Linked DNA regions of Homo sapiens: all the other regions are linked to region 2. The links come from fine-mapping of genetic effects on gene expression. A gene starts in region 2. Each other region holds a variant in brackets. All regions are shown on one strand. Distances are from middle to middle.

Region 1 (8,328 bases), 66 kb before region 2:
GTAGTTACAAAAGTCAGATTGGCAATACAGATGCTGTGTTCAGATGGGGTACTAATTTTCCCTGAGGAATAAGGAGGAAGTTTCATTTCAGAGCTCAAGTCAGAGAGGGAATTTTTTTATGCTGGTGATTTTAAAGGGAACCTCAAGCAACCTAAGAGGGGAAAAGCCAGAAAATGTATGTGTGTAGGGATTAATATACATTATGAGTGTTATGGTGATTAAAAATATTGTTGCTGACCTGGAAACATTATGATGAGATATGGCTTATTTGAGATATTGGTGGAACATCACTTTTTATTTTTTAATTTTATTTATTTTTTGTTTTGGGATTAGGAAAGTTTTATTTTATTTTAATTTTTTGTCTTTATTTCTTCTAAAAAAAAAAAGCGGGATACATGTACAGAACGTGCAGGTTTGTTTTATAGGTATACGTGTGCCATGGTGGTTTGCTGGACCTATTGACCAGTCCTCTAAGTTCCTTCCCCTCGCCCCTCACTCCCCAGCAAATCCTGGTGTGTGTTGTTCCCTTCTCTGTGCCCATATGTTCTCAATGTTCAACTCCCATTTATGAGTGAGAACATGCAGAGAACACCACCTTTTATTGAGAAGATTTTTTTTTCCTGAAGACTGAAGGTTGGTCGCTATGTCTAATTAGCAACTCAAGATATACAGGATCGCTATAGAATTCTTCACCATTAGCAAGTGACTTTTTTTAATTTTTCCCCCAAACAAAACAAAAACCAAACAGAATATGTATTATCTGCATGTCGTCATCATCTCTCTTACAGCAAGTCCTGAATATCTGAAATCTAGCACTAGATTAAATCTTATAACAGTGAATTTAGTTTTCAGAGGAGGTTGTAGTTAGGCATCATTCTCTAGAAATTCTAACCAGTTCTCCCCTTTGACTCAGCCAAGTACCTTTTGTTTCTAGAATCTTTTTAAAGTCCATTTCCAGATATAATTAAATGTTTGGATTTATTTAAACATTGAGCCCCTGTTCCATTTTATGCATGATTCTCACCAAGAAAAGCAACTAGGCGTTTTCTTATATTGGATAATTTAGCCTCACTGAATTTTAAAGTGATCACAGGATCTGTAATAATTGTTGCTACTGTTTTCATGTATGGGGGATAGGAAAATCACAGCTTTAGGCAAATACAGTAAGATTCACAAGCAGTAAAGAGAAAACACTTCTTTGTGGCACTTTAACCAGATCATTTTTATAGGAGCCAAATCACAGAAATACTTAGGAAGAATTATTTCAGTAAAGAAAGCCTTTATGGTTAATAAGGGAAATGAAATCATTGTAGAATATATAACCAATATGAGAAATATATAACACTACAATATGAGAAAGATGTGATGTAATAGAAGAATGGAAATAAGACTTTTCCTTAATAATCAACATATTTCTATGAGGGAGGCTCAAAGGGCTAGAGAAAGTCTTATTTAGACAGGGAAGAAAGTTTCTCATAGAAACTATTTTAGTATTGGAGTAACTAAAATTACATTAAAAATAATGCTGATATTGTAGAATAAGTGAGCACAGCTGTGTTTTGTCAGTAGTTCATTGCATTTTTAGTTTGTCATATTAAAGATATATATTACCACATATTGTTAGTATATAAGTGAAAATTATGTAGCAAAAAGAATTTCTGTAAAATCTTCATAATATAGTGGAGATAATTTCTGCTCAATACTGGTAGTTCTAAGAAAGAAATACAATAATACATGTGAAAAGCAAACCAGAGGAATACTTTTTTTCCTTCGCTTCCATTTCCAGTTGGGGAGCTGTTAGGGATTGAGCCGTACCAACATGGCACAGAAGGATGGGTGTAGTCTGGAAAACACTCATCTCTTATTTGTCAATTTGCCTCGGTTTTAAGCAACCTGAGTTGTTTTGTATATTTGTTATCGATTGTTCTGTAAAGGTAGCCAACATGGTCATTTATCCAGCTAGTTTTTCCAAGGACTGAATTTCTCCAAGGCTCTGTCCTTAATTTCACCAACAGTAGAAACCACAAGTTAATTATTATAATCAGCAAGCTCAGAGTTGGTTTCTCTATGGACAATCCTCAGAACATTATTATGAGAATTGTTCTATTTTGAGGATTGATAAGGTGATCAAAGTGAGGCATATTTTTGTAGAATTGGTCTAATTCTGGGTGAATCATATACCATATCTCATCTAGTCAACTCAGATAAGCATTTAACCCAGTTTTTAAAGTTTGGACAAAGATTATTTTAACCCATCAAATCAAGAGATACTTTATAACATTATTTCTGCGTGTGTATATGAATTTTAATTGATTTTTCCGGGTATGAAGACTGAGACAAAAAACTGGAGGTGGCTACTGTATATACCATCTGAAATATGCTTCACTGGCAGTATCAGTAGTCCAGGATTTGATGTTTCATGGCTTCATTGTGAAAATGTTGAAGTATAAATCTTCAGCTCAGCAGTATACAACTAATAAACAAACTGGGAATGTAGTTAGTGAACAAGACAACCTGTCTCTCTTCTCATGCGGCTTTTCTTTTATTTTTATTTTTTTTATTTTTTATTTTTTTATTTTTATTTTTTTTTAAGTTTCTGAGTCTTTTTTTTATAATCTTTTTTTTATTATTATTATACTTTAAGTTTTAGGGTACATGTGCACCTTGTGCAGGTTAGTTACATATGTATACATGTGCCATGCTGGTGCACTGCACCCACTAACTCGTCATCTAGCATTAGGTATATCTCCCAATGCTATCCCTCCACCCTCCCCCCACCCCATGACAGTCCCCAGAGTGTGATATTCCCCTTCCTGTGTCCATGTGATCTCATTGTTCAGTTCCCACCTATGAGTGAGAATATGCGGTGTTTGGTTTTTTGTTCTTGCGATAGTATAGTTTACTGAGAATGATGATTTCCAATTTCATCCATGTCCCTACAAAGGACATGAACTCATCATTTTTTATGGCTGCATAGTATTCCGTGGTATATATGTGACACATTTTCTTAATCCAGTCTATCATTGTTGGACATTTGGGTTGGTTCCAAGTCTTTGCTATTGTGAATAATGCCGCAATAAATATACGTGTGCATGTGTCTTTATAGCAGCATGATTTATAGTCCTTTGGGTATATACCCAGTAATGGGATGGCTGGGTCAAATGATATTTCCAGTTCTAGATCCCTGAGGAATCGCCACACTGACTTCCACAATGGTTGAACTAGTTTACAGTCCCACCAACAGTGTAAAAGTGTTCCTATTTCTTCACATCCTCTCCAGCACCTGTTGTTTCCTGACTTTTTAATGATTGCCATTCTAACTGGTGTGAGATGGTATCTCATTGTGGTTTTGATTTGCATTTCTCTGATGGCCAGTGATGATGAGCATTTTTTCATGTGTGTTTTGGCTGCATAAATGTCTTCTTTTGAGAAGTGTCTGTTCAAGTCCTTTGCCCACTTTTTGATGGGGTTGTTTGCTTTTTTCTTGTAAATTTGTTTGAGTTCATTGTAGATTCTGGATATTAGCCCTTTGTCAGATGAGTAGGTTGTGAAAATTTTCTCCCATTTTGTAGGTTGCCTGTTCACTCTGATGGTAGTTTCTTTTGCTGTGCAGAAGCTCTTTAGTTTAATTAGATCCCATTTGTCAATTTTGGCTTTTATTGCCATTGCTTTTGGTGTTTTAGACATGAAGTCCTTGCCCATGCCTATGTCCTGAATGGTATTGCCTAGGTTTTCTTCTAGGGTTTTTATGGTTTTAGGTCTAACGTTTAAGTCTTTAATCCATCTTGAATTGATTTTTGTATAAGGTATAAGGAAGGGATCCAGTTTCAGCTTTCTGCATATGGCTAGCCAGTTTTCCCAGCACCATTTATTAAATAGGGAATCCTTTCCCCATTGCTTGTTTTTCTCAGGTTTGTCAAAGATCAGATAGTTGTAGATATGCGGCGTTATTTCTGAGGGCTCTGTTCTGTTCCATTGATCTATATCTCTGTTTTGGTACCAGTACCATACTGTTTTGGTTACTGTAGCCTTGTAGTATCGTTTGAAGTCAGGTAGTGTGATGCCTCCAGCTTTGTTCTTTTGGCTTAGGATTGACTT[C/G]GCAATGCGGGCTCTTTTTTGGTTCCATATGAACTTTAAAGTAGTTTTTTCCAATTCTGTGAAGAAAGGCATTGGTAGCTTGATGGGGATGGCATTGAATCTGTAAATTACCTTGGGCAGTATGGCCATTTTCACGATATTGATTCTTCCTACCCATGAGCATGGAATGTTCTTCCATTTGTTTGTATCCTCTTTTATTTCCTTGAGCAGTGGTTTGTAGTTCTCCTTGAAGAGGTCCTTCACATCCCTTGTAAGTTGGATTCCTAGGTATTTTATTCTCTTTGAAGCAATTGTGAATGGGAGTTCACTCATGATTTGGTTCTCTGTTTGTCTGTTGTTGGTGTATAAGAATGCTTGTGATTTTTGTACATTGATTTTGTATCCTGAGACTTTGCTGAAGTTGCTTATCAGCTTAAGGAGATTTTGGGCTGAGACAATGGGGTTTTCTAGATATACAATCATGTCATCTGCAAACAGGGACAATTTGACTTCCTCTTTTCCTAACTGAATACCCTTTATTTCCTTCTCCTGCCTAATTGCCCTGGCCAGAACTTCCAACACTGTGTTGAATAGGAGTGGTGAGAGAGGGCATCCCTGTCATGTGCCAGTTTTCAAAGGGAATGCTTCCAGTTTTTGCCCATTCAGTATGATATTGGCTGTGGGTTTGTCATAGATAGCTCTTATTATTTTGAAATACGTCCCATCAATACCTAATTTATTGAGAGTTTTTAGCATGAAGGGTTGTTGAATTTTGTCAAAGGCTTTTTCTGCATCTATTGAGATAATCATGTGGTTTTTGTCTTTGGCTCTGTTTATATGCTGGATTACATTTATTGATTTGCATATATTGAAACAGCCTTGCATCCCAGGGATGAAGCCCACTTGATCATGGTGGATAATCTTTTTGATGTGCTGCTGGATTCGGTTTGCCAGTATTTTATTGAGGATTTTTGCATCAATGTTCATCAAGGATATTGGTCTAAAATTCTCTTTTTTTATTGTGTCTCTGCCTGGCTTTGGTATCAGAATGATGCTGCCCTCATAAAATGAGTTAGGGAGGATTCCCTCTTTTTCTATTGATTGGAATAGTTTCAAAAGGATTGGTACCAGTTCCTCCTTGTACCTCTGGTAGAATTCGGCTGTGAATCCATCTGGTCCTGGACTCTTTTTGGTTGGTAATCTATTGATTATTGCCACAATTTCAGATCCTGTTATTGGTCTATTCAGAGATTCAACTTCTTCCTGGTTTAGTCTTGGGAGAGTGTATGTGTCAAGGAATTTATCCATTTCTTCTAGATTTTCTAGTTTATTTGCGTAGAGGTGTTTGTAGTATTCTCTGATGGTAGTTTGTATTTCTGTGGGATCGGTGGTGATATCCCCTTTATCATTTTTTATTGCGTCTATTTGATTCTTCTCTCTTTTTTTCTTTATTAGTCTTGCTAGCGGTCTATCAATTTTGTTGATCCTTTCAAAAAACCAGCTCCTGGATTCATTAATTTTTTGAAGGGTGTTTTGTGTCTCTATTTCCTTCAGTTCTGCTGTGATTTTAGTTATTTCTTGCCTTCTGCTAGCTTTTGAATGTGTTTGCTCTTGCTTTTCTAGTTCTTTTAATTGTGATGTTAGGGTGTCAATTTTGGATCTTTCCTGCTTTCTCTTGTGGGCATTTAGTGCTATAAATTTCCCTCTACACACTGCTTTGAATGCGTCCCAGAGATTCTGGTATGTTGTGTCTTTGTTCCCGTTGGTTTCAAAGAACATCTTTATTTCTGCCTTCATTTTGTTATGTACCCAGTAGTCATTCAGGAGCAGGTTGTTCAGTTTCCATGTAGTTGAGAGGTTTTGAGTGAGATTCCTAATCCTGAGGTCTAGTTTGATTGCACTGTGGTCTGAGAGATAGTTTGTTATTATTTCTATTCTTTTACATTTGCTGAGGAGAGCTTTACTTCCAAGTATGTGGTCAATTTTGGAATAGGTGTGTTGTGGTGCTGAAAAAAATGTATATTCTGTTGATTTGGGGTGGAGAGTTCTGTAGATGTCTATTAGGTCCGCTTGGTGCAGAGCTGAGTTCAATTCCTGGGTATCCTTGTTGACTTTCAGTCTCGTTGATCTGTCTAATGTTGACAGTGGGGTGTTAAAGTCTCCCATTATTAATATGTGGGAGTCTAAGTCTCTTTTTAGGTCACTCAGGACTTGCTTTATGAATCTTGGTGCTCCTGTATTGGGTGCATATATATTTAGGACAGTTAGCTCTTCTTGTTGAATTGATCCCCTTACCATTATGTATTGGCCTTCTTTGTCTTTTTTGATCTTTGTTGGTTTAAAGTCTGTTTTATCAGAGACTAGGATTGCAACCCCTGCCTTTTTTTGTTTTCCATTTGCTTCATAGATCTTCCTCCATCCTTTTATTTTGAGCCTATGTGTGTCTCTGCACATGAGATGGGTTTCCTGAATACAGCACACTGATGGGTCTTGACTCTTTATCCAATTTGCCAGTCTGTGTCTTTTAATTGGAGCATTTAGTCCATTTATATTTAAAGTTAATATTGTTATGTGTGAACTTGATCCTGTCATTATGATGTTAGCTGGTTATTTTGCTCATTAGTTGATGCAGTTTCTTCCTAGTCTGGATGGTCGTTACATTTTGGCATGATTTTGCAGCGGCTGGTACTGGTTGTTCCTTTCCATGTTTAGCGCTTCCTTCAGGAGCTCTTTTAGGGCAGGCCTGGTGGTGACAAAATCTCTCAGCATATGCTTGTCTGTAAAGTATTTTATTTCTCCTTCACTTATGAAGCTTAGTTTGGCTGGATATGAAATTCTGGGTTGAAAATTCTTTTCTTTAAGAATGTTGAATATTGGCCCCCACTCCCCTCTGGCTTGTAGGGTTTCTGCCGAGAGATCCTCTGTTAGTCTGATGGGCTTCCCTTTGAGGGTAACCCGACCTTTCTCTCTGGCTGCCCTTAACATTTTTTCCTTCATTTCAACTTTGGTGAATCTGACAATTATGTGTCTTGGAGTTGCTCTTCTCAAGGAGTATCTTTGTGGCGTTCTCTGTATTTCCTGAATCTGAACGTTGGCCTGCCTTGCTAGATTGGGGAAGTTCTCCTGGATAATATCCTGCAGAGTGTTTTCCAACTTGGTTCCATTCTCCCCATCACTTTCAGGTACACCAATCAGACATAGATTTGGTCTTTTCACATAGTCCCATATTTCTTGGAGGCTTTGCTCATTTCTTTTTATTCTTTTTTCTCTAAACTTCCCTTCTCGCTTCATTTCATTCATTTCATCTTCCATCGCTGATACCCTTTCTTCCAGTTGATTGCATTGGCTCCTGAGGCTTCTGCATTCTTCACGTAGTTCTCGAGCCTTGGTTTTCAGCTCCATCAGCTCCTTTAAGCACTTCTCTGTATTGGTTATTCTAGTTATACATTCTTCTAAATTTTTTTCAAAGTTTTCAACTTCTTTGCCTTCAGTTTGAATGTCCTCCCGTAGCTCAGAGTAATTTGATCGTCTGAAGCCTTCTTCTCTCAGCTCGTCAAAGTCATTCTCCATCCAGCTTTGTTCCGTTGCTGGTGAGGAACTGCGTTCCTTTGGAGGAGGAGAGGCGCTCTGCTTTTTAGAGTTTCCAGTTTTTCTGTTCTGTTTTTTCCCCATCTTTGTGGTTTTATCTACTTTTGGTCTTTGATGATGGTGATGTACAGATGGGTTTTTGGTGTGGATGTCCTTTCTGTTTGTTAGTTTTCCTTCTAACAGACAGGACCCTCAGCTGCAGGTCTGTTGGAATACCCTGCCGTGTGAGGTGTCAGTGTGCCCCTGCCTGGGGGTGCCTCCCAGTTAGGCTGCTCAGGGGTCAGGGGTCAGGGACCCACTTGAGGAGGCAGTCTGCCCGTTCTCAGATCTCCAGCTGCGTGCTGAGAGAACCACTGCTCTCTTCAAAGCTGTCAGACAGGGACATTTAAGTCTGCAGAGGTTACTGCTGTCTTTTTGTTTGTCTGTGCCCTGCCCCCAGAGGTGGAGCCTACAGAGGCAGGCAGGCCTCCTTGAGCTGTGGTGGGCTCCACCCAGTTCGAGCTTCCTGGCTGCTTTGTTTACCTAATCAAGCCTGGGCAATGGCGGGCACCCCTCCCCCAGCCTGGCTGCCGCCTTGCAGTTTGTTCTCAGACTGCTGTGCTAGCAATCAGCGAGACTCTGTGGGCGTAGGACCCTCCGAGCCAGGTGCAGGATATAATCTCG
Region 2 (8,328 bases):
CCTCCAAACCACAACTATTGATACTTAGAGGGTAGGTTTCCCTCATCTGTTTCCAAGAACTGTAATTCAAATTATTTAAATTTCCTGAGACTGCAAAATTCTATCTTAAAGTCCTTTCCCTCTGGGAAGGGACTCCATCACTTTCAACAGATTCTTAAGGAAGTCCCTATCTCCTGACAAGGTTAAGAACCACTGTACTTATAAAAACCAAAATTTCTGAAAGACTTGTTATTTATAAATGGTATAGTTTCCTACTTTGGTGAGTTATCAGAATTGCAAGAATACTGTTTTCTGTTCTTTTGTCATTATAACTAAGCAGTATTTCAGCTACACTGTAGACTAAGTGGAATTAATGTTCTGGCCTGGGAAGTAAGCATCCTGGAACGATGTGTTGCATACTGTGTGACGTGTTGCAACTTATAAAAGAAACTTTAGATTGAAACCCAGATGTAAACTGAACAAATTAAGAAAGGAAATGTCAAAATATAAAACCCTCTAAACAGCTCCATTCCTTCAAAAGACCAGGTGCTTTTGATAAGGAAACACAGGACATGGTGGAAGACTAACACAAACTGATACTACAGGAGAGGGGTAAAGCTTGAAGCTTAGAAAAAAAAAATAAACTTTAGTGTTTAGGATATGTGGTCAGTAAGACACATTTTCTGAAAATGTTTCCTTTAAGTGAAACAGACCAGCTTGAATTCTCCAGGAAAGAATTAAGGCTTCAGGAAGGCACAGCATTGCTAGTACATGGAACTCTCAAGTGATGGAGAAATACAAAGAGATAGAAAAATGGATTCGGGAAGGGGTACTGCTTATGCAGAAGACGTTCCATAGCAGGCCTGACTGCTATCCTTTGAAAGTGCAGCTTGTGGCCGATGTCTGAGAACTTAAGATTTTGGGAGAGTTTCCACCACCATTAACTGATAGGAGTGGCTCACCATGCCTAAAATGTACAATCATTACAGTTTATACCAACACCTGCTTTCCTCTGGGAGTCTGGAAACGTTGGTATGTGCCAGGCAGGGGTGGCCTAAGTGAAAAGCCCCCAGTAAAAGCCCTGGGCACTGAGTCTCTAACAAGCTTCGCAGGTTGGCAACATTTCACAAGTGTTGACACAACTAGTTGCTGGAGCAACTGAGCACAGCCAGTGTGACCGCTCGAAGACCCTTGGAGCCTTGCACTTGGTATCCCCAGAACTTCACCCATGTGCCTCTTCCCTTTGCTGACTGTGCTTGATATCTTTTCCCTGTAATAAATCAGCCGAGTCCTCCTAGCAAATTGCTGAACTAAAGATGGCCTTGGGGACCACAGCACATTGCTCACGTTTAATTTTTAAAAACTTAGATTGGTTTATTAGGTTTGTATTACTAAAGGCACCCTATAGAGTCATTTTATATTCAGCCACACATCTCTTATCTCTCACAATTGGTCAGTTTAAAATTCATTTAAGGGGAGAGAGCAGGAGGAAGATGCAAACGAAAAGCTTTTCTTTAAGCATAATATATGAATACAGTATAAGCACATTCACCAGAAAGTGTGGCTAATCAAAGAATGCAAAACACTTAAGCCAAAATAAAATCACTTAAAAGAATCTTTCCCATCTACAATCACTAACAAACCCCAATACTGTATAACAAATGCTTTCCTTAGAATATAAATTTCACTACCCATACTGCCAAAAGTTACATCATTTGTTTCTCTGTGTTCATGTTGAAATGATTTGAGGCTCAGTTAATTGGAGCCTAAGCTTAGAGGTTTCTGGGCAAATACATTATTTCTCTGATTCTCACACTACTCATACTGTAAGACAACCATTCCTCTTAACAGCTTTCTAGAGCAGAGGGGAGAATAGATGAAGCATCCTACCACATTAAACATACAAAAGTCTTAAGGTACATATCATAATTTCGGAAACAGCAAGAAGTAAAACACATATCTTAGAATCCAATACTATAGTAATTAAAGAAGACAATGCTTTGTCTAGAATAGTACAGCCAACACAACCTTGCCCATAAGCCTTAGAGACCACCCCAATAGGAGTAAATATTTCTGTAAAATCACAGAAAAGTTTTTGAAGAGCAATTGTTTTCCATTTGAGTTGACTATAAGCATTAAATGTAAAAAGACTAAAAGATTTACAGTTCATACTTTGGTGACTACCCCACAGATAAACCCTATAAGAAAATCAATGTTGACAACCATACTATAGGCAACAGACAGACAGTCACTATATTTTAAAGGTACCCTAACCTCCTTTTCTATAATATTTGAGGACATGAAGACGTGAGGAAGCTCTTGAAGGAAAGGATTTGTATATCCCCGGAAACAAGCACGGTGTGGTACATAGGAGGTCCTCAAGAAATGTCTGCTGAATTTTTCACATTTTCATCTTTTGTCTGTATACAATTTTGGAGACAAACCACAAAGGCCTTACACAAAACAGTTACGGAAAAAACAGATGGCCTGTGCAGAGGGGATTATTTTTCTGATTGCAGCTGTCACTTCAGGATTCAAGAGTATCGTAAAAGCTAAAAGGCACTTTAGACATCAGTAGTTATTACTAAATCGGGGAGGGAAGTATGAATTTCTACATCCCCTGGGCAGTTTTACAGAATGTAGTTCAGAGTTACCAGCAAGGTTGTTAGCATGCAAATTTCTGGGCCCTCATCAAGCCCACTGGATTGCCACTTCTGATGGCTGAGGCCCATAATCTGCATTAACGTAATACGCTCTCTAGATGAATTTTAGGTCCACTAATGGAGGACAACAGTCAAACGCAGCTCAGTTAAACACACGGCTGTCAGAAATTATATATTGCTTGTAACAAGGTTGCCCAGACTGATCTAAAACATTTCTTTTTGGCTCAGAGATATGTTAATCAATCCAGAGGGAAAACTGGTTCTCCTATTGACCTAAAGGAGTGATCAGCAGTTATCTTTTTAGTCTGATTTTAGAGAGGAAACGGACTATACCTCAATGTATTTTCGTGACCATGAGGTTACAAAGCTTGATGTCCAGGAGGCAAAAACCAGTACCAGCAGAAGAAGCTGAGTAAATCAGGTTCCTCTGCTCAAAGATGAGCCCAGTGACATGAAACCCGAGGCACCAGATTTACAGCTAATGAGTGGCGAAATCAGATCCTCTTCCTCCCAGTCTATCCTTCCTGAAAACAGTGAATAACCTGGTCTCAGTAACCTGTTGGACAACCCAGCTGTCGGCCAATCGTTGCGGAATTATTTGCTGGTAAATGAATTGGAAGCATATGATGTAATGCAGCTGCCCTTCTCCCCACACACCTGAACTTCAGATTTCACAGCTGTAGAGCGTGTCTCTTAGGCCCGACATGACGCCCGGCGGCGCAGCCCACGTGGAAGCCGTGCTCGCACAGGCAGTTCTGCCACCACCGGGCGGAGGCCGGCACCACCCTCCTTGCTAAGCCTCCAAACTTTCCGTGCGCTCGTCACCGGTGTCGCGACCATTAGCAGGCCACGTGTGCGACTCTCTGTAACCAAGGCTTCCGCGACCCTACCCCTAGATCCGGGCCCCACCCACCCTGCCCCAGTCTCCGGGGAGGTGGGACGCCTGGGAGCGCGTCCCAGGTCCCGCAACCACAGCGCCGGCCACCGAGGCTTCTCGCCGACCGACAGGTCTCCCAGACCCGCACCCGAGCCCGGGTGCCTAAAGCAGCAGCGCGCGCCCCGCGGGATCGGGCACTACCCGGCCTGCCCCGGCGCTGGGATGCCCACGAGAGCGCCCCACTCACCCGGCACGGCCTGTTGCTCGCGGCCGCGAGCCCACTGCGTTGCGGCGCAGCGGCTGGAGGCGGGGCAGCGTGGGCACGCTCCGGGCCGTGCTCCAGCCCCCGCCCCGCCCCGCCACGCCGGCCCGCAAGTGGTGGCAGCCCGGAGGCCTGGCTACCCGGCGGTGTTCCGCGTTCACGCCCGGGCGTTTCTTTAGTCCATATGGAAGGAAATAAATGGCCTTTTTTTTCCTCTTTTTTTTTTTTTTTTTTTTTTTTTTTTTTTTTTTATGGTATGTGAGACAAGGTCTCACTCTCGCCCAGGCTGGAGTGCAGTGGTAGCGATCTTGGCTCACTGCAACCTTTACCTCCCGGGCTCAAGCGATCCTCCTGCCTCGGCCTCCCAAAGTGCTGGATTATAGGTGTGAGCCACCCACCCGGCTCTCCTTTTTTTTCTTTTAACTTGGGGCGGCAGGAGAGGATTTGAGAGAGCGTTTTGGTGCAACTCCGTTCCTTTTATGAATAGAGAAGCAGGCCTGAAGAGGAATACCAGCGGTGCAAGTTTAGGGAGTTGGTGGTCCGGGTTCTCCCATGGCTTTCTTATGGGCTGTGTGGCTACACAATGCTGATTTGTACAAGCCGAGTGTCATTTATATCATCTCGCTCCGGGAGAGAGAGTCAATCCTAGTTTTAAAAGATACTGGAAATTCGTTGCGACTATGGCTATAGAAACAGAAGAAATGCAGTTATCTGAGTCCTTTCAGCCTAACACTCCCTGCTTTGGAACATTTGGTTCCAGTCAGGAGGCACAAATGAGGGAGCAGGGAAATCAGTGGCGGGCCTGTGCCTTTCTTTGCTCTGTAGACAGCCAGAGGACCCAGAGGAAGTCGACATTTCGTTCCGTCAAGGTGACTGAGACCAGTGGCTGCTTCTAAGGATCAAGTGGCACATGAACAAATGGGAACAAAGTACACCCTTGTCTAGTATTTGTCTAAAACTAACAATAATAGCAAGTCTTGAATTGAGTTCTTCCTGGCTATAAGGCACCACGCTAGGTGTTTCAAATACTCCTCACTTCATCCTCACTACAACCTTGCAATTACCTCCATTTTACAGTTGAGGAAACTGAGTCAGGAGAGGTTAACTAACTTGCACAAGATCACACAGCTAGGAAGATGCAGAAACAAGATTAGAGCCAAACCAGTCAGTCAACTGTTGGTCTTTTTCACGTTTTACTAATACTCGTATAACTAGTAAGTTTCCTGGCAGGTTCCAGTTGGAAAAACTCGAGGGTAACATCAAATTTAGCCCTTACAGGGTAAAAAAGAATAGTCAACAGCAAAAATCTCTAGTTGATATGATATTGGTAATGTACTTCGCTCTTTATTTTGACTGCAAGACATCTACTCAAGATAATATAGAATAATATTGCTGTTCCCGGGATTCAGATAAAGGTAAATTCTCACACGTCCACCACTTGGAAAAGCAGTACGGTTGTAGAAAAAAGTTATAATGTCAACACAAAATACCATTTTCTCAGCATATAAAATGGCCGCAGGATGTCTAACAGAACAAAAGTACATATGGAAGTCAGCTTTGCAGGGGGAAATCATACATCTTGTGTAGGAGTTCCTCTAATGCAAAATTAGTATATCAGTATGTTCTCTCTGATTTTTTTCATTATAATTCCGATTTCTTAGCATAGCAAGCAAAAAAGTCATGATAGTTCCATTTTCAGACCTAAACAGTGCCCATCATTCCTGTGAAGAAAAGGAGAAGGGGCCAGGTGCGGTAGCTCACGCCTATAATCCCAGGACTTTGGGAGGCTGACGCCGGTGGATCACCCGAGGTCAGGAGTTCAAGACCACCCTGGCCAACATGGTGAAACCCCCGTCTCTAACAAAAATACAAAAAAATTACTCAAGCATGGTGGTGCCTGCCTGTAATCCCAGCTACTCAGGAGGCTGAGGCAGGAGAATTGGTTGAACCAGGGAGGCGGGGTTGCAGTGAGCTGAGATTGCACCACTGCACTCCAGCTTGGGCAACAAGAGCAAAACTCTGTTTCGGAAAAGAAAAAGAAAAAGAGAAGGAAAGTTAGTTTGTGCTTGGGTGACAAGAGCGAAATTCCGTCTAAAGGAAGGAAAGAAGGAAGGGGCGGGGAGGGAGGGAGGAAGGGGGAGGGAGGGAAGGAGGTAGGGGAGGAAGTAAGGGTGTGGTGGGATGGTATGGGAGTGGAGAATGGCTTGCAACCTTGCCTGAGAGGAGGAAGAGGAGGTGAGGAAGTAAGGGTGGCATGGGATGGGAGTGGAGAATGGTCTGCAACCTTGCCTGGGAGGCTTCTAGAATATATGGCCTTCCTACATGTATTGTTTCTGGTATTTTTTTTTTTTTTGGAAAAGTTCTTCCAGAGGACAAGATGCAGACTGCTATCCAGTCCCCACCATAGGTTCATTTAAAAGTCAGTTATTTTGTTTCTGTAATTAATTTTCTCATGAAAACAATGTTGTAGATGGCAGCTCTCAAGATCTGTCCGGAAAAGTCTAGAAGCCTCCAGATTTCTAATCAACAGACTAGCGCTCCTCCTCTGTAACTGAGGAACAAGATGCCAAGGAGACAGGAGAAAGAAGAGAATTCCCTTCATGTCTCGGCCATAAACCCTGAAACAGACTTGTCCATGAGCCTTGTAAAATAAGTTACATTTCTGCAGAGGTGCTTGACGTTCACACCGTTTGGATTGCTTTATTAAAAGACTCTTTTTAGAGCCAAGTTTGTCTTCCTCTTCTGTGGTCTCCTAGGCTCTTCTTCCTGTAGAGCTTTTGGTTTTTAGCCACCTCATTGTGGCTGTGCACCTGTCCAGCCTGGGCATCAGGCTGCAAAAGTGCAACCCTGTCCTACTCCTACCTCCAGTCACAATGATGCTGGGTGCAAAAAAATCTAAAAATGGTGGTGTGTAAATGTACTTTTTATGGTTATTAGATCTAACTCTGGAGGGGCCAGGTATATGAATTTGGAAAACTCTCTTTGCTAACATTCACTTTCCTCATTTATAAAGTAAGATTGCACCAGATGTACTGTGATATCCCTATTGGCACTCAAATTCCATAGGCTTAAGGGTCTGTGCTCCAATTTTCAAAGGGCATTAGAAGAAGAATCAGTCTGATTGGAATTACCTTTCAGTCTATAAACATTGAAGAACTTATAAAATGATTAATATTTGTATTTTTGTTGTAAAGCTTTATTTTATAATGCTACTGTGTCATACGATTCCAGGAAACACACATTGCTTTAAACTATGTGAGTACTGCCCCCTATGTGTTTGTATTCACTTTGGTCCAGAAAATATCTAAACCATGTCTTTCTAGTATATGACTTTAATATTTATACCACTATATTGGGCTAACTTTTTAATATAAGGAAACAGACACATCAAGGTTAAGGAACTTGCTCAAAAATACATCATTTGATAGTCCATTTTTTTCATTTGGGCTGCTATAAGAAAATATCTAAGACTGGGTGGCTTATAAGCAACAAAAATGGACTTCTCACAGTTTTGGAGGCTTGTTCTCTGGTTCACAGAGGACACCTTCTAGCTGCATCCTCACGTGGTAGAAGTGGGAAGGCAATTCTGTGGGTCCTCTTTATAATCCCATTTATAAGGCTTTACCCGCGTGACATAATCTACTCCCAAAGGCCCCACCTTCCAATCACATTGGTGATTCTGTTTCAGTATATGAATCCAGGGTGGGGACAAACATTCAGACCATAGCACCCATACTGCCTATCAAGTAATATTCTTTGGACCTCTGTTTATGTTTCTCCAAAAGTGGTTAATTTCACCTAACTCGGAAAGATGCTGTGAGTTTCAGGTGAGGTGGAGTAAGCAAAAGAGTTTTAAAACTGTAAAATGCTATTGAGTGTGAGAGGCATTACTGTTAAATCCCATATGACATCTTGAACATGATTCCATGGAATGAATTAAATGCAGTTGGGCCTTTTATACATGCATACTTCACTTAATTTACACAATTCATCAAGCAGAGTACCTTCAAATTGATGTCATATCACCATGGGATAATCTTGGTGTCTTAGTACCTTCAGAAAAGTCAAATTTGTTTAACAATGACCCAGGCCGAGGTCTTTCAAGACTATAGTAGTTACGATACAGCTCATAGAACTCAACGTACTTAACTTGATAACAAGCATACCATCACCGTTTGGAATTATATTTTGCATATTTATAAAACTATGATTTAAACTCCTTGGGAGCAAGAAATGTGCTTCTTTAATTCTGAGAACTGCAACAGAGTTCTTCACAGAGTAGTTACTCTGTTTACAAAATTGAATTGGGTAAGCATTCCTATTTTCTTTTCTTGCTTAGAGTCCAATTTCTTTTACAGCCTGTGCCTATAGGAAAGTTGGTGTTAGGCTGCATGACTTTTCTTAAATGATTCTGCAGACCTCCTTTCTCCAGCAACCCAGCACTTGCAGGTGAAAATATGCCTCAGGATTTTCCAATGACTTTCCCTTACAGAGATGTTTTCTTACTTAACATGTTATCATAAATCTTGAAATTGACTTGCCCAATT
Region 3 (5,000 bases), 41 kb after region 2:
ACAACAGAAATTTATTCTCTCACAGATTTGGAGGCCAGAACTCTGAAATCAGTATCATGGAGCTGAAATCAAAGTGTCATAAAGGCCCTTCACTCTTAGCTCTAGGGGGAAAATCCATGTGTCCTATAGCTTCTGGTGGCTGCCAACATTCCTTGACTTATGACCACATTGCCTACTCTTCTTTTGTATGCATGAAATTGTCCTCTACCTTTCTATTATAAGCATACTTTTGATTGCATTTAAGTCCCAACCAGATAATCCAGATAATTTCTTCCCTATTTCAAGATCCTTAACTTAATCACGTCTGCAAGGATTTTTTTTTCTTTTTTGGTCATATATGATAAGCTTCACAGGTTCCAGGAATTAGGACATGGATATCTTTTGGGGTATCATTTCTTCACCCTACTTTAGAATTTTTCTAAGGTTTGTAGGACATTAAAAAAAGCTGAGTTGCTTGGGTTTACCAAACATTTTTAGAATTATCCATGATAAGCCACTCAATATGCACAGAACTCATTTGACTAAAAGAAAATATGGAACATTAAAAAGGGAGGACTGTTATAGCAAAGTGTTGGAATGCACATTTTAAAATTAAAAGAAAAGAAAAAGAGAGCAAATTGGTGTTAGCTTGAATGATAGCCATGCCTTCCCATGAAAAATGAAGGAGACAACTAAGAAAAGTTATTTAGCTAATCCAAGGTTCCAAAACTGCTTGGTGGGGTGCCAGGGTGGGGTGGAGTTGGTGAGGAGGAAAACAGGCTTGTTTACTTATAATATTGTGTGCCAGATTTTAGGATTTCCATAATTCAGCTCATTCTATTTGTCCAATCGACATATACCCAGAGTGGGTAGAGTTAGAATAGAAAATCATTTTTTAAAATCTGGATGTTAGAACCAGGGGAAAATCACATCTTATGCTTGTGTCCCAATCTCCAGCAGCATTAAACAGACAGCAACATTGTGAGTTTCATCTGAAATAAGCATCATCAGCTTTGGTGCAGATGGCTGCAGTACAGGGAAGCCAAAGGCGATAGGCAGCTTTCCTTACCTGAGACTTAGGAGGACGTTTCCATCAGGGTGTACGCGCAGCATGATATTCTCCATAGTTGTATCATGGATGAAGGATCTTTTAGAGTGGACAAAAAAGATATCAGGCACCCAGATCTTTCTGGTCAATCTATGATCAAATGTCATGCTTTTGTTTGCTGTGCTAGGAAAGGAGAGCCTCTCGTCTTTCCAGTAATGCCTGAGATAAAAAGTCATTGTAAAGTCCTAGACAGAGAGAAAAAGAGACCAAAAAAACCAGTAGGAATATGGTTCAGGATGACCACTCAACACTGTTAGTCCCAGGACTCATTCCTATGGTGTTAATGACTTTTAAGTGAATGGTTAATATTGTAGTTTCAAGTAGATCTAGGATGAAGCTAAGGAGGTTATGCTTTGAGCTTCTCCTTCACATGGAGCCTAGTGAACGTTGAGAATTTCTGGGAGTTATAATAGAATATTCAAGTTGGGGAAGGGGAACCAGGTTATAAATGGGAAGCATTTCTGTGTAAGCATTCTGGTAAATAACCTAAAGAGATTTCAGAAGAAAGGAACCTGAAACTTTACTATTTTATTGTCCATTATTTTATTGTGACTTCCTTTTTTATTCTAAATCACTTTTAAAACTGATTTTGTATTGATACTCATGTTATTTTTGTTAAAGAAGTTTTCCCAAATCGAATAAACTACAGTCCCATAAAAACATGGATACAGTGTTTATTAGAGCTATTCGTGTAAAGCAAGTTGTCAGAAGTCCTGGGACAGAGACAGAATCATCCTCAGCTTGAGAGATAGAAAGCATATTGTGAAATGGTAGTTCTCAAAGTTTAGTGTGCAAAGACTGACTTTTGAAGTTTGTTGAAATGGCACATTTCCCAGAAGCTAGTTC[T/C]CAGAGATTCTGATTCAGTATGGCTCAGGGATTTGAATTGTTACTGTTTATTCTTACATTGTAAGAATGTATTGATGAGAGGAAAAAACTGTACTAGCATTATATTAGAAAAAACAGTTTATTTAGTTAATAATTTGAGTTTTGTTTGGCTCTCAGATGTTCCAAATATTTGGTTGTTTGAATAGAAACTCCCCCAGCTTCATCCAAATTATTGGCTGTTGGACAATTACAATTTCTTACTTCCTACTATTTTGCAATTGCTTACTTCTTACTATTTCACAATTGCTTACTTCTTACTATCTTTTTTTCCAACACTAATCAAATTTTTCTTGAACCATTGCATATCATAGAACTTTGGCATTTATTATACAAACAAAGGATACATTTCAGTAAACTCTGAATGAGTCACCAATTAATTATGAGCTAGTTTGTCCTAGGTTCAGAATAGAGCTATACTGATTTATGGCTCTGGATTAATCTAGGAACATTAGCCATGTGTAATTTTGAATTAGGGTGAGGGCAAATAAACAGAATGGTTGCTTCATTAACATAATACAAGGAATTGTGTGGGTTACTGCACAGAGAGCCTTAATAAGCATATATTTAGAATTAGATGCTCAGTGTGATCTGAAGTTCACTGGGCAAACACTGAGTTTATGCAGTCAAATAGCAGACGTTGGTGCATGTCTGTGATATAGCAAGTCACCACACGCTGGCACTATCAGGAGCAGGCCAAACAGCATTCTGGGAGGAGGGTGAGACAAATCTTAAATAGATCAAAAGTGAAGTTAGGGCGGATGAGAGAGTAGAAAGATGATAAATGAGAAGCAAAAACAAATAAACAAACCAACAAAAAAACCAACACTAGGGGGAAGGGTGAATCACTGACAATCAGAAAGCATTTTCAAACTGGGCATGTGAACCCAGTCCAGTTTTATCTGATACGGACTAGCACAGCTAACCTTATTCAGGAGGTAAAGATGATGTCCAGTTCTGGGTGCTGCTGGTTAGAAACAATAAGGACTTTAGATGCAAACTGGGTCATTCAGAAATGACTTGAATAATACGCCAGGAGAGGGGAAATAAAAGCTTGTTCTCAGAGCACAACAGGCTTGGGGAAGTATCATTCAGAAATGACTTGGATAATATGTCATTCAGAAATGACTTGGATAATATTCCAGGAAAGGGGAAATAAAAGCTTGTTCTCAGAGCACAACAGGCTTGGGGAAGTATCAGTAAAAGAGCTGCCTTTGGGTAAGAAAGGGGCAAAATCTTCTAAACCAATCTTTTTTGAGTAGCGAGTCCTATTAGTGCTATTCCCTTTTGCAGGAGAATGGCAAATGAATCTTTAAGACTTACATTGAGCTGAAATAAATATTGAATTAGATAATGATAAGGATGAGGCAGACCATTAGCTGAAGAGTTTACAGACTGAAACAAGGTGTAATGGGTCATAGAAGATTTTGTTTAGAACTTTCTAGAATTTTTATGTGTTCTGAACTTTTAGTGATTTGGAGGAATCACTATAAATAAAAATATGAATTAAGGATATAGATGAAAAGATTATTTGATTTTAGTGATTGATATTTTCTAGGTCCCTCCCTCAACAGATCCCTGTTTGTTCACTTTGTCTCTCTCTTTTTATCTTTAATTGCAGTATTTGCATTATTACAAAAATAATACACAGAATCTAAATTTTAAATTTTAACACTCTGAAAATCACTATATAAGCTACAGTTTATGTATCAACAATACTTATTCTAAAGCATATATAAAAACAACTTTTGAAAGTTTTATAAGAACACACATGTAAAATATTCCAGAAAATGGAATGAAATTCAAGGATTCATGTACGTAAAAATGGCCATCAAATGAGTGGATTGGATAAACAACAAACTAAATCTTTTCAGATGGAAAATGGAGTTTGAAAAGAAAATAACTTAACTTTTCCCAATCATGGAAGAGCTACTCCTTGGTTTTATTAAAAAGAGTCTCACTCTGCCACCCAGGATTAATTGCAGTGGTGTGATCTTGGTTCAGTATAACCTCCACCTCCCAGGTTCAAGTTATTTTCCTGCCTCAACCTACTGAGTAGCTGGGACTACAGGGATGTGCCACCACACCCAGCTAATTTTTTTTGTATTTTCAGTAGAAACAGGGTTTCCTCATGTTGGCCAGGCTGGTCTCGAACTCCTGACCTCAAATGATCTGGCCACCTTGGCCTCCCGAAGTGCTGGGATTATAGGCATGAGCCACTGCTCTTGGCCCAAACATTAAATTGTTTACTACTTTGGGTAGAATGGAGATAAAAAACTAAAATTCAAACCAAATACAAAATTGAAACCAAACCAAAACATATTCATAAGCTGCATCTTACTAGTAGGTACCAGTTAGGGCCTTTATCATTAACTCCTGAAAGTGGTGTAGTATTGAAAGAAAAGGAAAGAGATCCATCTAAAGAGGATGACGGAAAAGATAGCAATTGAGGACAAAGAAATGAGATGGAAAAAGCAATTTAAATATAAAGACACATAGCCATTGGGTAAGAACACGTGATAGAGTTTGGATGTTTGTTCCCTCCAAATGTTGTGTTGGAATTTGATACCCAGTGTTGGAGGTGGGGCTTGAAGGGAGGTGTATTAGTCCATTTTCACACTGCTATAGAGAACTACCTGAGACTGTGTAATTTATAAAGAAAAGAGGTTTAATTGACTCACAGTTCTGCATGGCTGGGGAGGCCTCACGAAACTTACAACCACGGCAGAAGGCAAAGGGGAAGAAAGCACCTTCTTCACAGGGCAGCAGGAGAGAGAGCATGTGCAGGGGAAACTGCCACTTTCAAATAATCAGGTCTCATGAGAACTCTTTCACTATCACAAGAACAGCATGGGGGAAACTGCCCCCATGATCAAATCACCTCCCACAAGGTCCCTCCCTCAACATGTCAAGATGAGATTTGGGTGGGGAACACAGAGCCAAACCATATCAGGAGGTATTTAGGTCTTGACGGCAGATCCTTCAGGAATAGCTTGGAGCCATCTTCTTAGTAATGAATGAGTTCTCAATT
Region 4 (8,328 bases), 120 kb before region 2:
GCAGACATGTCACATAGCAAGAGCAGGAGCAAGAGAGAGGGGAAAGCTGCCACACACTTCTAAACAACCAGATCTCACGAGAACTCACTCACTATTGCAAGGACACCACAAAGCCATCCATGAGGGTTCTGCCCCCATGACCCAGACACCTCCCACCAGGCCCCACCTCCAACATCAGGGATTATATTTCAGTGTGAGGGTACAAACATCCAAACTGTATCACCAGTTATATCTGTTCTCTTCCTGTCTTTGTACTTATAACTAAAAACAACAACAACAAAAATACTCTTTTGCTGTCATTTTAGAGTATTTTGTTCAAAAGGAAAAAATCAATGTGTATGTTCTATCCACAGTGTTAAACAGAATTTGTATCCCTTTGTGTGTAGTTGAAAAAAGCAAATCTCAAATTAAGTCACTTGACACAACTCCCACTGATAATGAACAGAGGCAAGAGAATTCAGAGGCAGTTATGTACCATGATTCTTCCTATTCGTGTACTGAATTTTTAAGCTATATTCATAAACTTCATTTATCAAAAAGAAATCCTATTAAAACATAAAAATAACAGTGGCAGTAAGTCTTTTTCCAGAAATGAACCATGAGCTAAATAAGATTATTATATCTGGACCGCAGGTTATAGATTCTCCAACCCAGGCCTCAATACATCAATGATTATTATGCATATTCTCCATAGCTTGGCATCTGCCTTATATGAAATCTACCACTGGTCCCATTTTAGAAATGCTGCTCATGACTAATCATGCAACTTTGTTGAAGGATTTAGCATCTTTTAAGAGGAAGTATTTGGTGTATGCCTGTGATATTCTTGTAAATAAAATGAAATTAATAAGTATTAACTTACTGCATATCAATATCAGATATTTATGACACATTACCCTTATTTCTAATAAGTAAATCACTTATTACAAAGAACCGCATTTTTTGTTGCCACTGTTTAATAATTGACATGTAGAAATGGAAGAATTGTAGCCCAAGACTATTTCACTGAGGAAGAATGATCACTAATTGTTCTTTACATTAATGCCCGTATTCAGAATACAGAATTATGTAGTAAGATGAATATTTTAAATATTTGCATCTGTTCATATTTTGATTTTATGTAGCTCCTCTTTCCTTATTAGGTTTTCAACTCTTTCTCAGTGAGAGTAAAATGGTAGTCAAATTTAAATGTGTTAAATGTTGTCTTGGTTAGAGGGAAATTAATTACTGAACCAATTTTTAAAATATGTATGGCTTTAGTGTATGCTTGCTATCTTTGTTTGTTTGTTGTTGTTTTTTTGAGATGGAGTCTCGCTCTGTCACCCAGGCTGGAGTGAGTGCAGTGGCGCGATCTCGGCTCACTGAAACCTTCACCTCCTGGGTTCAAGCGATTCTCCTGCCTCACCCTCCCGAGTAGCTGGGACTACAGGCACGTGCCACCACTCTCGGCTAATTTTTTGTATTTTTAGTAGAGACAAGGTTTCACCGTGTTAGCCAGGATGGTCTCGATCTTCTGTCCTCGTGATCCGCCTGCCTCAGCCTCCCAAAGTGCTGGGATTGCAGGCATGAGCCACTGCACCCAGCCTGTTTGTTTTCTAACAGACAGGTCTTGCTATGTCTGTCTGGCCTCAAACTCCTGGGCTCAAGCAATTCGCTCACCTCAGTCTCCTGAGTAGCTGGGACTACAGACAGGCATACACCATTGCTCCTGGTGTCTGCTGTCTTTTTTTCTCAGCAATGCAAATAGTTGCAGCAGTATCATGTCAGTTTAACGTACAGATTTTTATACGTCTCTTTTTCAAACATAACAGTGCTCCCACCCCAACAATAATTGTACCTGCAACCCTGTGTATAAATAGATTACAGCACAGTTTTCCCTGTTGATGGTGGGAATGATTTGCCTGGAGCTTCACAGTCAGCCACTGTTCTCTGCCCCTGCCATTCCTGGCACCTCCTTGGAACAGTTTTGAAATTACATGTGTAATGATGGAAAGAACACAGTCTTTGTAACCAGATATGCCTGGACTTAAATCCTAGATCTTCCAGGTGGTGGCTTGGTAACTTTGGGAAATTTATTTAACCTCTCTGAATCCTGGTTTATTGATCTGTAGTAGGGCGGGTCCTTATTTCATAGAGGTGTTTTAGAATTAACTAAGATAACATGTTAAGTACTGTACAATGCCTGATACAGAGTAGGCACTTGGTAAAATGATTGCCTTCTTGCCATATAAAGTCTGGCTAAAACTTAGAAATACTGTGAATCTTTGCTTGAAAATGGTGGTGATTTATTCTGGGTGAATAGTATAGAAGGCACATATTTGAAATATTGATTCTGCATAACGTTTGAGAAGAAGGTACATACAAGAAGGCATACCATATTCAACTTTAGCTGGAAGTCAAAATCTTGCCTCTTGATTGCTTCTAAAAAAAAAAAGTGAGTGCTACTGGAGTGCCCGAAATGGAAAATGCGCTGTGTGTTACTGTGCTGTCCAGTTGACCAAATGGACTGTCAGGGCTTAAGCCTGTCATTGTGGCTGATGGTAGTCTGGGCACTTGACATCTTGTAGTTATTGAATTGATTGTGTTGTAAGGTATCTGGTTTGATTTGCAGCCACTTCAACTATGGTATACCTGGAATGTTCCTACATTGCGGTATGATGGAATATCTTATCAAAATGGAAACTGAATATGAAGGAACATGTATGTACTCTAGATTTTTGTGAGAAAATTTGCCTTTACAGGTGTCAGATACTGATTCTGGAACACGAGAGTGAGCGCCAGAAAGCTCTCAGAGAATCAAAAGCATTTGTTATTCTGGCCCAGTGCTTTTGCTGAAATACTTATATCATAACAGGAGGGAATGGCTTTCCTGCCATTCCTTTTCTTGTTCCTTTCTCTTCTCTCTTTGTATACCTGCCCTGGTTGATTTGATTTCTGCCTGCATCTTGGCTAGTGACTAGCTCATATATGTTCCTTTAGCCCAGCATATATCGTGAGCTTCAGGGTGATAAAGCCTGCTATTTCACGGACCTCTCCTCTCAGATGTCTCTGAGTATAAAGTTTGACATACTCAAAGTTGAACTCATTTTATTTTAGCTTCCTGCTATTTCTGGAAGTACCACCACACTACCCAATCTTGACACCTGGGAATGAATCTAGTGTTTTATCTCCCTTCCCATTGAACTAAGGCCCATCAACGGCCCTTCCTTCATACGCATACCCATTGATACTATATAACTCATACTTTTCTTATTTAGATCAGCAATTTCACGCATATTTTTTCTCTGATACATATGAGAGGTAACTGTTTTGGGTCACCTGTGGTTAAGGGCACTTACTTTAAATAGTACATATAACTACATATCTTTATCAAAAATTATATGGATTTGAAAACAGTGAAAGTAACACGCCAGATATAACTTTAATTCTATACTAGAACATTTTTAGAAGGTAAAATTTTAGCTTTTAAAATAATCTTGGTAATAAGTTATTAATTACATCCTAGAACTGATCATAACACTGATGTGTGATGATATAAAAGTTGCAAATAGCTTATTGTTTTAAACTATAACCAGCTGCATTAAGGTAAGGTAGTTGCCTACCTACCTTGCCTGTTGTCATTTTCTAATGAAAAGAATAACTCTGTGATAACGATCTAATGTTATCTTTGAAGCAAAATTACTTTAACAATAGGAGTATAAACAGTTCATCTTTACAAATTTAGTTGTAAAATCCATTTATTGAAAAATAATGACATGAATATATATCAGTACTCACTGAGGAGTTAATCAGACAACCCACCACGATGAAATCCTTTATAAAGGTACTGATTTTGATTTAAGATTTTAGCATCAGCCTGTAATCCCAGCACTTTGGGAGGCTGAGGCGGGTCAATCACTTGAGATCAGGAAATGGAGACCAGCCTGGCCAACATGGTGAAACCCTGTCTCTATTAAAAATAAAAAAATTAGTTGGGCATGATGGGCGTGCGCCTGTAATCCCATTTACTTGGGAGGCTGAGGCAGAAGAATGGCTTGAATCTGGGAGGTGGAGGTTTTGGTGAGCCGAGATTGCACCACTGCACTCCAGCCTGGGTGACAGAGCGAGACTGTCTCCAAAAAAAAAAAAAAAAAAATTTTAGCATCATTTAAGCTGTAATTCAAGATAGCAGCAATAATAAACTAATAAAGCATTTTTCTCAAAATTGTGAATTTCAAGTATTGGTGGTGGAATTTCAACTTTTGGCAAAATTTCCAAGTAATACGCGGCAGCCAGATGTCTTAGTAGAACATTAACTAGAATTATTTAATAAGGAGTGGGTTTTAGTTTATGAATGCCAAATTTTAGTTACCGTTAATAACTTCAGTAATAATCCTAGTCATGATGAAAGTATGTAAGATTATTGTTTACCTACACCCTGTGGTGTCAAGGCAGACATATGATATTAGGGATATACACTGGAAGAACGTAAATGTAATTTCCGTCCTGAAAAACTGGAATTGTAGAAGGAATTTTCCAGGCAAAGAGAGCAAGGGATAAGTCCCAGCAGTGGAAATAGCATTCTGCAAAGATACACAGTAGTGTGAGAGAAAGAAAGGTAGGGAGGGAGAGAGGAAGGAGGAGATAGTGAATAGTAATGCATGTGAAGACAGTAGGCATTGCAAGCATTGTGAGTGGTAAGAGATGAAATTGGAGAAAGCCATGGGGGCTATATCCACCAAGACCTTGAAGGCAATGCCAGGGGGCTTGGATTTTATCCTGATGGCAATGCTCAGCCATTGGAGGGATTTAAGAATGATCATACTTGGCTTCTAGAAGATTGCTGTGGTTTTTGTCTGGAGAACATAGTGGGGGATAACAGATGTGGAAGCAGCAAATCCGGTTAGGCCACCGATAACACTATTCTAGGGGGCGCAGTTATGGTGATGGTGTCCTGATGTTTTCTCTGACTTTAACAAGTGGGAATTTTAAACTTTATAGAAGAAGGAAGAAAGGAGACATAGCATGGC[C/T]AAGTTCAGTTTGGAATGTTTTGAGTTTGAGGTCCAGTGAAGCATCCAGGTATGGAGATAGATGTCTGGTTGGTAGTTTAGGAGTCTGAGCTAATCTGAGGATCATCATCTGAATATTTGAGTCTGTGGGCAAGAGATTTCATAAGAGCATGAAGGAAAAGCTGATATAGGCTGGAAATTGGAGAAGCATGTTATATGAGGGATGGCTACAAGAAGTGAATGTGAAAGAGATGGAGAAGAGTATTCAGAGAGTAAGAAGGGAAACCTCAGAGTGATGCCATGGAATCTAAAGGAAGAATGGTTTTCAGGAAGAGATTCAGTCTCACATTCTGCAGACACATCATATAAGATCAGGACAGAAGAACAGTCCATTGGAGTGATTAGTCGTTAGAATGGTGTCCCTGAAAGGTCATGGTTAGGATTATTGGGGAGGTAGCCCAATTGTCTGGACTTAGGAAGTGATTGGGAGTAAAGGAAAAGAAACAGGGAGGGTTGGTAACTCCTTTGTAACGAGGTTAGTAATGAGGACAGAGGAGAAGGCTGTCTCTGGATATACTTTTGACACTTAGATTAATTCCATACTTAGCTGTTGTAAATAGTGCTGCAATAAACATGGGTGTGCAGATATCTCTTTGACATACTGATTTCCTTTTCTTTAGATGTATATTTAGAAGTGGGATTGCTGGATCCCATAGTAGTTTATTTTTGGTTTTTGGAGCAACCTCCATACTGTTTTCCATAATGATTGTACCAGTTTATATTCGCACCAACAGTGTATAACAGTTCCCTTTTCTCTACATACTCACCAGCATTTGTTACTTTTTGTCTTTGTGATAGTAGCCATTCTAACTGGGGTGTGATATCGCATTGTGGTTTTGAAGTGCATTTCCTGGATAATTAGCAATGTTGAGCATTTTTCATGTACTTGTTGACTATTTGTGTGTCATCTTTGATAAATGTCTGTTCAGATTAATTGCCCATTTTTATTTCTTCTAATTATTTTAATAGTTTAGTAGCACAGGTGGTGTTTGGTTATATGGATAAGTACTTTAGTGGTGATTTCTGAGATTTTGGTATACCCATCACCCAAGCAGTGTACACTGTACCCAATGTGTAGTCTTTTATCCCTCATTCCCCTCCCACCCTCCCCCCAAAGTCCCCAGAGTCCATTTTTATCATTCTTATGCCTTTGCATCCTTTTAGCTTAGCTTTCACATAAGTGAGAACATATGATGTTTGGTTTTCCATTCCTGAGTTACTTCTCTTAGAATAATGGTCTCCAACTCCATCCAAATTGCTGCAAATGCCATTATTTCATTCCTTTTTATGGCTGAGTAGTATTCCACAGTATATGTACACACAGACACACACACACATACAATACACACACACACACACACACACACACACACACGTTTTCTTTATCCACTCGGTTGATGGGCATTTAGGCTGGTTCCATATTTTTGCAATTGCGAATTGTGCTGCTATAAACATGTGAGTGCAGGTGACTTTTTCATATAATGACTTCTTTTCCTCTGGGTAGATACCCAGTTGTGGGATTGCTGGATAAAATGGTAGATCTACTTTTAGTTGTTTAAGAAATCTCCGTACTATTTTCCATAATGATTGTACTAGTTTACAGTCCCACCAGCAGTGTAAAAGTGTTCTCCTTTCACTGAATCCGTGTCAACATCTATAATTTTTTGATTTTTTAATTATGGTCATTTTTTGCCATACTTAAATATTGTGGTATCACAATCGTGGTATCACAATTGTGGTTTTGATTTGCATTTCCCTGATAATTAGTGATGTTGAGCATTTTTTCACGTTTTTGTTAGATTTGCTTTTGGGTTCTTAGTGATGAACTCTCTGCCTAAGTCAATGTCTGGAAGAGTCTTATGGATTTTATCTACTAGAATTATTATGGTCTCAGATCTTAGATTTAAGTATTTGATCCATCTTGAGTTGATTTTTGTATAAGGTGAGAGATGAGGATCCAGTTTCATTCTTTGACATGTGGCTTGCCAGTTATCCCAGCACAATTTGTTGAATAGGCTGTCCTTTCCCCCACTTTATTTTTGTATGCTTTGTTGAAGATCAGTTGGCTGTATTTGGCTTTATTTCTGGGTTCTCTATTCTGTTCCTTTGGTCAACATGCCTATCTTATACCAGTACCATGCTGTTTTGTTAACTATAGCCTTGTAGTATAGTTTGAAGTCAAGTAAAGTGATGCCTCCAGATTTGTTTTTTTGTTGTTGTTTGTTTGTTTTTTGCTTAGTCTTGCTTTGGCTATGCTTTGGCTATGTGGGCTCTTTTTTGTTCCATATGAATTTTAGGATTGTTTTTTCTAGTTCTATGAAGAATGATGGTGGTATTTTGATAGGAATTGCATTGAATCTGTAGATTACTTTTGGCAGTATGGTCGTTTTCACAATATTAATTCTACCCATCCATGAGCATGGGATGTGTTTCCATTTGTTTGTGTCATTGATGATTTCTTTCAGCAGTGTTTTGTAGTTTTCTTTGTAGAGATCTTTCACCTCCTTTGTTAGGTATACTCCTAAGTATTTTTTTTTTTTTTTGCAGCTGTTGTAAAATGGATTGAGTTCTTGATTTGTTTCTCAGCTTGGTCGTTGTTGGGGTATAGCAGTGCTCCTGATTTGTATACATTGATTTTTTTTTATCCTGGAATTTTACTGAATTCATGTATCAGATGTAGAAGCTTTTTGGATGAGTCTTCAGGGTTCTCTAGAAACACGATCATATCATCAGCCAACAGTGACAGTTTGACTTCCTCTATACGAATTTGGACCCTAAATTTCTTTCTCTTGTTTGATTGCTCTGGCTAGGACTTCCAGTACTATATTGGATAAGAGTAGTAAGAGTGGCATCCTTATCTTGTTCCAGATCTTAGCAGAAAAGTTTTAACTTTTCTACTTTTACTATGATGTTACCTGTGGATTTGTCATATATGGCCTTTATTTCATTGAGGTACATTCCTTATATACCTATTTGTTGAGAGTTTTTATCAAGAAGGGATATTAAATTTTATTAAACGTTTTTCTGTTTCAGATGATCAAAAGGTTTTTATCCTTCATTCTGTTGATGTGATGTTTATTGTGTTGTATATGTTGAATTGTCTTTGCATCATTGGGATAAATTCAACTTAATTATGGTATATAATCTTTTTTATGTGCTGTTGGATTTATTTTGCTAGTATTTTATTGGAGATTTTTGCATCTTGTTATTCTAGGGTAATGGCCTGTAGTTTTCTTTTGTGTGTGTTTGTGTGTCCATGTCTGCTTTTGTTATCAGGGTA

The links. PIP is the estimated chance that this variant, and not a neighbour inherited with it, causes the effect. A credible set is the group of variants that fine-mapping cannot tell apart.
Region 1: its variant is the best candidate, but not a certain one, in a credible set for the expression of RIOX2 in whole blood (INTERVAL, PIP 0.57).
Region 3: its variant is the best candidate, but not a certain one, in a credible set for the expression of RIOX2 in whole blood (INTERVAL, PIP 0.59).
Region 4: its variant is the best candidate, but not a certain one, in a credible set for the expression of RIOX2 in T cells (TOPMed, PIP 0.54).

The regions. Positions count from the first base shown.
Region 1 is chr3:97,902,120-97,910,447 of GRCh38, forward strand. All of the region lies in intron 15 of CRYBG3 (crystallin beta-gamma domain containing 3), which reads left to right. Among named protein-coding and RNA genes, the nearest start is that of RIOX2, 66 kb to the right of the region's middle. RefSeq lists an enhancer at 7,743-8,328. The variant C/G (reference allele first, on the strand shown) is at 4,099.
Region 2 is chr3:97,968,615-97,976,942 of GRCh38, forward strand. It overlaps RIOX2 (ribosomal oxygenase 2), which reads right to left and starts at 3,817. Exons shown (of 10, transcript NM_153182.4): 1 at 3,767-3,817. It overlaps LOC124909398 (a long non-coding RNA gene), which reads left to right and starts at 4,039. Exons shown (of 2, transcript XR_007095976.1): 1 at 4,039-5,196; 2 at 6,252-6,508. RefSeq lists an enhancer at 3,032-3,291 and a silencer at 3,562-4,001.
Region 3 is chr3:98,011,296-98,016,295 of GRCh38, forward strand. GABRR3 (gamma-aminobutyric acid type A receptor subunit rho3) reads right to left here. Exons shown (of 10, transcript NM_001105580.3): 5 at 1,049-1,272. Among named protein-coding and RNA genes, the nearest start is that of GABRR3, 22 kb to the right of the region's middle. The variant T/C (reference allele first, on the strand shown) is at 1,934.
Region 4 is chr3:97,847,016-97,855,343 of GRCh38, forward strand. All of the region lies in intron 2 of CRYBG3 (crystallin beta-gamma domain containing 3), which reads left to right. The region is part of intron 3 of LOC105373994 (a long non-coding RNA gene); the gene reads right to left. Among named protein-coding and RNA genes, the nearest start is that of CRYBG3, 29 kb to the left of the region's middle. The variant C/T (reference allele first, on the strand shown) is at 5,010.